Homo sapiens: one gene and its partner. The protein of the gene in region 1 interacts with the protein of each later gene in a pairwise test. Each region holds a gene or a part of one and is shown on either strand. Other genes may lie near its edges.

Region 1 (2,900 bases):
GTTACAGAGGCTTTTCTAATAATTACAGAGTCTTTTCTAACAATTACAGAGGCTTTTTTTCTACCTGAGGCTTCCTGTGGTAGAAGAATGCCAATTATTTACAATTTAGATCTAGATATTATTTTTCTAGAAATCTCAATGTTTCTGGGATCCCTGGCTTTAAGAAATCAACAGTTTCACAAAGGATATTTGAGTCTAGCAAAAATTTTGCTTTAGACCTTTGATATTTATCTCTACATTGGCAAAGAGTATGATTTAAAAATGCCTTACTTTTGGTTATTAGGTGGTATTCAAGTATAATGTGCTGAATTAAAGAAGATAAAATGCAATGTAAAATGTAAACAATTAGTGAGATGATTCTTCCTAGATTTAGAATTTTAATGAGCCAACTTCACACCTCCTGAGGGATGGAATAAAGTCATCACAATATCAAGCCTATTTTCTAAATTATAAAATTATGAATTTAGTTTGTTGGCAAGAACCAATATTTTCTGAAGGCAATGAGCTTGAACTTCTGAGGTGACTAATTATAATTAAATACTTTTCCGTTTGTCTTTTAGATATGATTATTATTCTAAAGCAGAAGCGCATTTTGAGAGAAGTTGGGTACTGGCTGTGGATCATTTAGCTGCAGTCCTCTTTCCTACAACCTTGATTAGATCATATAAGTTCCAGAAGGGCATGCCACCACGAATTCTTCTTAATACTGATGTAGCCCCTTTCATCAGTGACTTTACTGCTTTTCAGAATGTAGTCCTGGTTCTTCTAAATATGCTTGACAATGTGGATAAATCTATAGGTAAGAACCTTAAAAGGATACTTTTAAAAATCAGTATTATGTTGAACAAATAGAGGAAGAAATAATAATTAAATCAGTGATATAAACATTACAGCACTCCAAAAATAAAGATTTCCCTGTGGGTATCCATTCTATTTCTTTAGCAATAATCACTCTTGATATATAGAACCATTTAATGAGCACACATTTTAATCTTCTTACTCATGGTCTGTCCTTTCATCTGGAGACCATGTTGAAACTTGAAGTTGGCAAACCAACTGAAACACTTTTGTTTTGTTCTACATACCGATATATATTCCTTATTTTGCTCATCAGATCATTTAAAAAAAAAAACTTTCTACTTTGCTCTTATATTTAAAGAAAATGAAGACATTTCAAAAGAAAACCTGCCATGATTAATGAAATTACTAGCAATTTGGCTTACTTGAGTTCCCTTGATCCAATACTATTAGTCATGGAAGAAGGGTTTTATTCTAGCCCTTCAAATGCTGGATCTTCTAGTGAGGTAAAAAAAACAGAGGGTTCTTTATCTACCAGTTTGAAAGTGACTATATCATTCCCATTTGCCATACATGAACTGAAGCATTGAGCCAAATTTAAAACGTTTTTCAAAGCAAAAACATCAAGTCTGAAAGATAAAAATGGAGTAAATTAAACATGAATAAATTAAACCTATGTTTAAAAAAAACCTCTGCATCAGTTAGAGTAACAAAAACATCCAAACACTTTATAGACTTCATACAATTGAAGTTTTTCCTTTGGTTCTAGTGCAGCATTCTCTGTCAGTAGGCAGCTTCCCTTCACACAATCAGTAGCAGACCAAGTCTTCTTCATTCTGTGAAAATTTTTCTTGGAGCTTTTTCCCAAAAATGAGTTGATCCAATTTATTCTGTTTAATAGATATATAGTGTTATTATTAGTTATTGCCAATAATATAACAATGACATTTTATATATATTTTTCTTGCATAATTTATTATTTTATCACCAAATTCATAGAAAGAACGTGAAGTAAAGTTGGTAAGTCAGGTATTGCCAAATGGTATTGCCAATAATTCTATGAATGACATGCCATGCTTACTTTTCTTTGTATAATTTATGATTTTACCATTAAATTAGTAGAAAGGAAATGAAATAAAATTATGAGCCATATATTGCCAAAAGGTACTTTAAAAAATTTGCAAGAGTTTACATGTAATCATTTTGTATCTTTTACAGGTTATCTTTGTACAGAAAAATCTAATGTATATAGAGATCATTCGGAATCTAGCTCTAGAAGTTATGGAAATAACTCCTGAAACATTTAACTTCAAACTTCAGGAAATGATTAATGAATTAAAAATGAAAAACTCGAACTTGACAATCAGTAATTTCAAAAAATTAATGTCATCATGACCATGTAGTTTATTCTTTCTGATATTTTTGATTTATGCTTATTTGTTAAGATCTTGTACATGTATTAAAAACTTAAATTAAATGCATTCAAGTTAAAATAATGATTATTTTGCTCATGATTTTAAAATTCATTAATGATTAAAATGTTTAAGATAAAAGGATATTGCATTATGCTACCAAAAAATAACTGAGAAATTAACAAACATATTAAACTTGTGTAGCTCTTTTGTTGTTATCCTATCATCAAATTTCATGACATTTAGACTAATATATATTGCTGATTTATAACCAAAATCCAGATCATTTTGAAATAAAATACTGACAGGCAGTTCAAATTTTTAAAATTCATAAAACTGACCTGGAAAGTAGAATACACTAACTCATGTGTCAGTTTTCTCTGTGTTTTTGCTGACCACAAGTTTACAGCAATTACATGATAGAGTTCCCCTCCTTTCACCCACACTTGATAATGAATTCATTATATATAAAATATATAATTAATAAGTGAGAATACACTGGCCAGGAGGTGGTGATTTCTAGAGCTGACACGAAGCTTTCATATGAAAGTTTTCCCGGGTCCTCATTCACATACTAAATCTACCCACTAACTGTTGGAAAATGAAATTGGACAAATTGGTTTGAATATATGGGTACTGGATTAGGAAAGATGTAGTTTAAATCTCAGCAATGGCTGGGCGTGGTGGTTC
Region 2 (3,826 bases), on another chromosome or scaffold:
CTCCTCACAATGCTTGGCCTCTTGGCCTGAGCGTCCACGGCTCTGCCCACCACAAGACCAGCCAAAGGCGCCCTTGTTCTTGGTGTGGCAGAGCTCGCTCCTACCACCCCTCCCCCTCAGCCGCCTGAATGAGGACCCAGAGACTTGGGCAGTCACCAGCTTGGTCCCTGACTCCCTCAGGGACTCAGGGCAAGCCCCCTGACCTCTCTGTCTCAGCTTTTTCATCTCAGTAAGGGTGATGACCTCTGCCAACGGAATCTCCCCGAGGAACCTGAAATTTAATTTTAATTTTTCATTTGGAAATAATTTCAGACTGTGTTACAAAATTAGTACAGAGAATTCCTGTTCACCCGTCATCCAGATTCCCCAATTGTTAACATCTTGCATGACCACATTACACTGGTCAGAATCAGGAAACAAACACGATACTGTGCTGTTATATAATCTATAGAACTTACACATTTCTCCAGGTGCCCCTTCAGTGTCCTGTTTCTGGCCCAGGATCCATTGCAGAATCACATGTTAACTTGTCGTCTCTTTAATTTTTAAAAATCTGGGTACTGGGGGCTCCCCTGGTGTCCCTCGAGCCTGTTCTCTGCTGTTTGGGAACCACCCTTGCCACTTGCCCATCCTCACCAGAAGGCCATGGAGGGACCTCACCTGTCGCTTTTCTGCTGAGGCTGTGGGACTCCTGGCATCAGTTATCCCTCATGAACTTGGAATTTTGGCTTGGCTTTTGGAAGTAAATGAAGGCAAGAAAACTCCCTTCCCCACCCTCTTCCTTTTGGAATTTGAAAGCCATAGAAGTCATCAGGTCCAATGCCCTCCTCTTATTGAAGGAAAAGCTGAGTTTCAACGTGGAGCAGTGACTTGCCCAAGGTCTCACGGGCAGGTAGCATGGACCAGGGCACTGAACCCACCTGGGTCTCCAGACACCCTGGGACATGGCCTTTCTCCTCTCCCACGTCTCCAGCTTTGGGTCCTTGGGCTGAGATGCTGGCGATGCACCCAGGCAGGAGGCCTGCCTGAGGCCGTGCCTCCAGGCGCCCACCCTGAGCTTGTGTCCTGAGTCCCTGTAGCTTACCCAGGGCTGGGACAAGCCCCAGCTGTGAGCATGGGCTCCCCCAAACATAGTTCTTATCTCCTGCTTTGTTTTCCCCAAGGAGCTGGATGATGGCCTGGATGAAGCGTTTTCGAGGTAATGCTAGCTTCCTGTGCTGGGTAGGGGGCCTGGTGTGCGTGGGCTGGCCCTGCTGCCCTTTCTCCTGGGGACCTTTCCCCTGATTAAGAACACAAGCCACTCAGACCCCCTCCAGAGCAACAGTCCCATCCCTCCACTCAAATGCTTCCAGGGGCAGGGAGCTCACTGGGGAGGAAACCCCTTCCAGCGTTGTCCAGAGCTGTTAGAAAGTTCTTACTGTTGAGTCAAAAACTATTCCTGGTGGCTGCTCTGCCGCAGTCTGAGGTGAGCGAAACACACTGCAGCTCAAGTTGATTTCCTCCGACTTGAGGAGGCGTGGCCTTCAAAAATGGGCTTTTTTTTTTTTTTACAGGCTTTGCTCCCTCCACAGGTCTGTGTTTATGAACAGGGGAAGGGAGAAAGTGTTTAATGAAGCTCGTGAAGCGTTCCATAGCAGGGAAGGTCAGGCACAGTGAGGAGGTGTTTTGGTATAGCCTTTGGTGGCATTTCCCCGTTTTCCCAGGGGCCATCCTTGTGGCCCCCTGCAGCTTGGGGACATGCCACTGAGAAGGCTGTGGCTGAGGAGAGGCCTGGGCAGGTCAGGGTTCCGAGCCCTGGGTCCCCGTCTGTCAGGCCTCCCTTTCTCACTTGAGACCCTCAGCAGCCTCCTACAGCCCTCCCACATCAGGGGCTTTGTTTGGGGTTGGAGTCAGCGATTTTTGGTCCAGCGGGTGGGGACAGAGTCAGGGTCTTTGCCCTCCTGCCTCCTCCTTCCTCTTCCTTGCCTCCTTCTTGCCAGGGACTAGTGGAAACCCCTTGGTCCAGCCTGGGGCGAGGGCGACAGTGACACCTTCCCTGCCTCACTGGCTGACGACACCTGCCCTCTGAAGAAAATCTTTTGTTTGCTTTCTCCACATTATTTTGAGCATCATGTGCCCTTTATTAACAATTTTGAAAATCAGCAAAGCATTAAACAGAAAGTAACACCATCCTGTAATCCCACAGCCCAGAGTTTTGGGCTTAATTCATGCTAATCCTATACATATACATTATTTTGCATTGATCAGCTCATCGTATTTGCATTTTGGGATCCTGATTTTTCACTTAACAGCGATGTGTCAGAAGCATTGCTCCAGGCTGTTAAAAGCTCCTCGTAAACACCTCTTCCATTGACTGCCTAACATTCTCTTAAGGGAAGCTGCTATAATTTACTTGACTCTCCCCTATTCTTTTGGACATGTAGGTTGTCTCCCTTTGTAAATTTATTTTTCGAACAGCACGGTGTTGACACAGTTATAGCCAAAGAATCTTCCGTGTTCCCTCCCACAGCTTGTTCCCCACCCCACCCCCACCCCCGCTGCTCCCTTTACCAGCCCCTTCTCCTCTTTCCTGGGCATGTCCTGACTGAGCTGGGGCACAGAGTGGGTGCTCTGGCCTCTCCCGGGGGTGGGTGCACCGCTGGCTGCCCCTGACTTTTCTGAGCTGTTTGACTCTCAAGGGGAGGTGCTTTGATCTGAGGTTACTCCACCTCCCCTGCACCGGGGGCTTCCTTCTTGGGCCATGTGCCCTGCTGTTCCCCACTGGTGCCCCCTCGCGTCTGACCCTGGGGCGCGCCAGCCCTCACCCAGGCTCTCGGCTCACACAGCTCTGCCTTCCAGGCTTGCCCAGTCTCGGACAAACCCTCAGGTCCTGGACACTGGCCTGACAGCCCAGGACATGCATTACGCCCAGTGCCTCTCGCCTGTCGACTGGGACAAGCCTGACAGCAGCGGCACAGAGCAGGATGACCTCTTCAGCTTCTGAGGGCCCGGGGCCAGCCGGACACAAGCGGCCCTGACACGTGATGGACCAAAGCCACCTGCTGCGGGGGAGCCAGTTCTGGGGCCCGCCTGCCACCTCTCCCAGCCCTCAGCATTGTCAGCCTGAAGATCAGAGCTGCAGCCAGTCAGGCAGGGGAGAGATTTTTCTTTTAAGCCCTGCTCTTTCTCTGAGAACCAAAAGATGCCTTGAATATTTATTCAGTGACTTCTGGCTTATGCTCAGAAGCCAGTCTGCGTCAGGCACGTCTCCTGCTGCGTGACATGTGCAGTGCTGTAATCGGCTCCCGCTTGCTCTCCTGGAGCAAGCTCTGCCCTGGCTGTGGGTATCAGGACTGTGACCAAAGCATTTCTAGTCCCTTCTCTCTTTCTAAGGACCCAAATTTCCCTGGGGGCATCCTGCTTCCTGAAAGCTGTTGGATTTCAGTGATTTTTCCCCCCACCCCCCAGCACAGGAGAGCACCCACAGCCGCAGAAGGGGAATGTGTCCTCCTGCTCTGCTTCCTCAGGGCCCAGCAGGCGGGGGTTTGAGCCCTGGACCCCAGGCTCTTAGAGACTAAGGGGCAGCTCCTGACCAAAGACGATACAGCTTGGCACTTTAAAGCATTAACAGCAGGTGTGACCCTGAGGGCTCCTCCATGGTGCTGCATTGAGTCCAGCTTTCCTTCTGCCCTTCCTCCAGGAGAAGGGGCCCAAGGTCCCCGTGGATGGTCTCCACCTGTGCTTGGAACCAGTGTAACTGGCTGCTCCCTGCTCCCAGGGACTGACACGGGGATCATCTCTGTGACCGCCCTCCGTCGGGCCCCTGCCTGCCTTCTCCCCTCCACGC

Evidence for each region.
Region 2: the proteins of C6orf58 (region 1) and LDLRAP1 interact in a two-hybrid assay, tested with the Homo sapiens proteins (one large-scale study listed by BioGRID and IntAct).

Annotation. Positions count from the first base shown.
Region 1 is NC_000006.12:127,589,527-127,592,426, forward strand, and holds the end of C6orf58 (protein LEG1 homolog precursor), read left to right. Parts: intron 1-560; coding exon 561-799; intron 800-2,016; coding exon 2,017-2,096; 3' UTR 2,097-2,294; downstream 2,295-2,900. UniProt on the Homo sapiens protein: May be involved in early liver development.
Region 2 is NC_000001.11:25,564,010-25,567,835, forward strand, and holds part of LDLRAP1 (low density lipoprotein receptor adapter protein 1), read left to right. Parts: intron 1-1,163; coding exon 1,164-1,198; intron 1,199-1,352; coding exon of another isoform or gene 1,353-1,407; exon of another isoform or gene 1,408-2,838; coding exon 2,839-2,983; 3' UTR 2,984-3,826. UniProt on the Homo sapiens protein: Adapter protein (clathrin-associated sorting protein (CLASP)) required for efficient endocytosis of the LDL receptor (LDLR) in polarized cells such as hepatocytes and lymphocytes, but not in non-polarized cells (fibroblasts).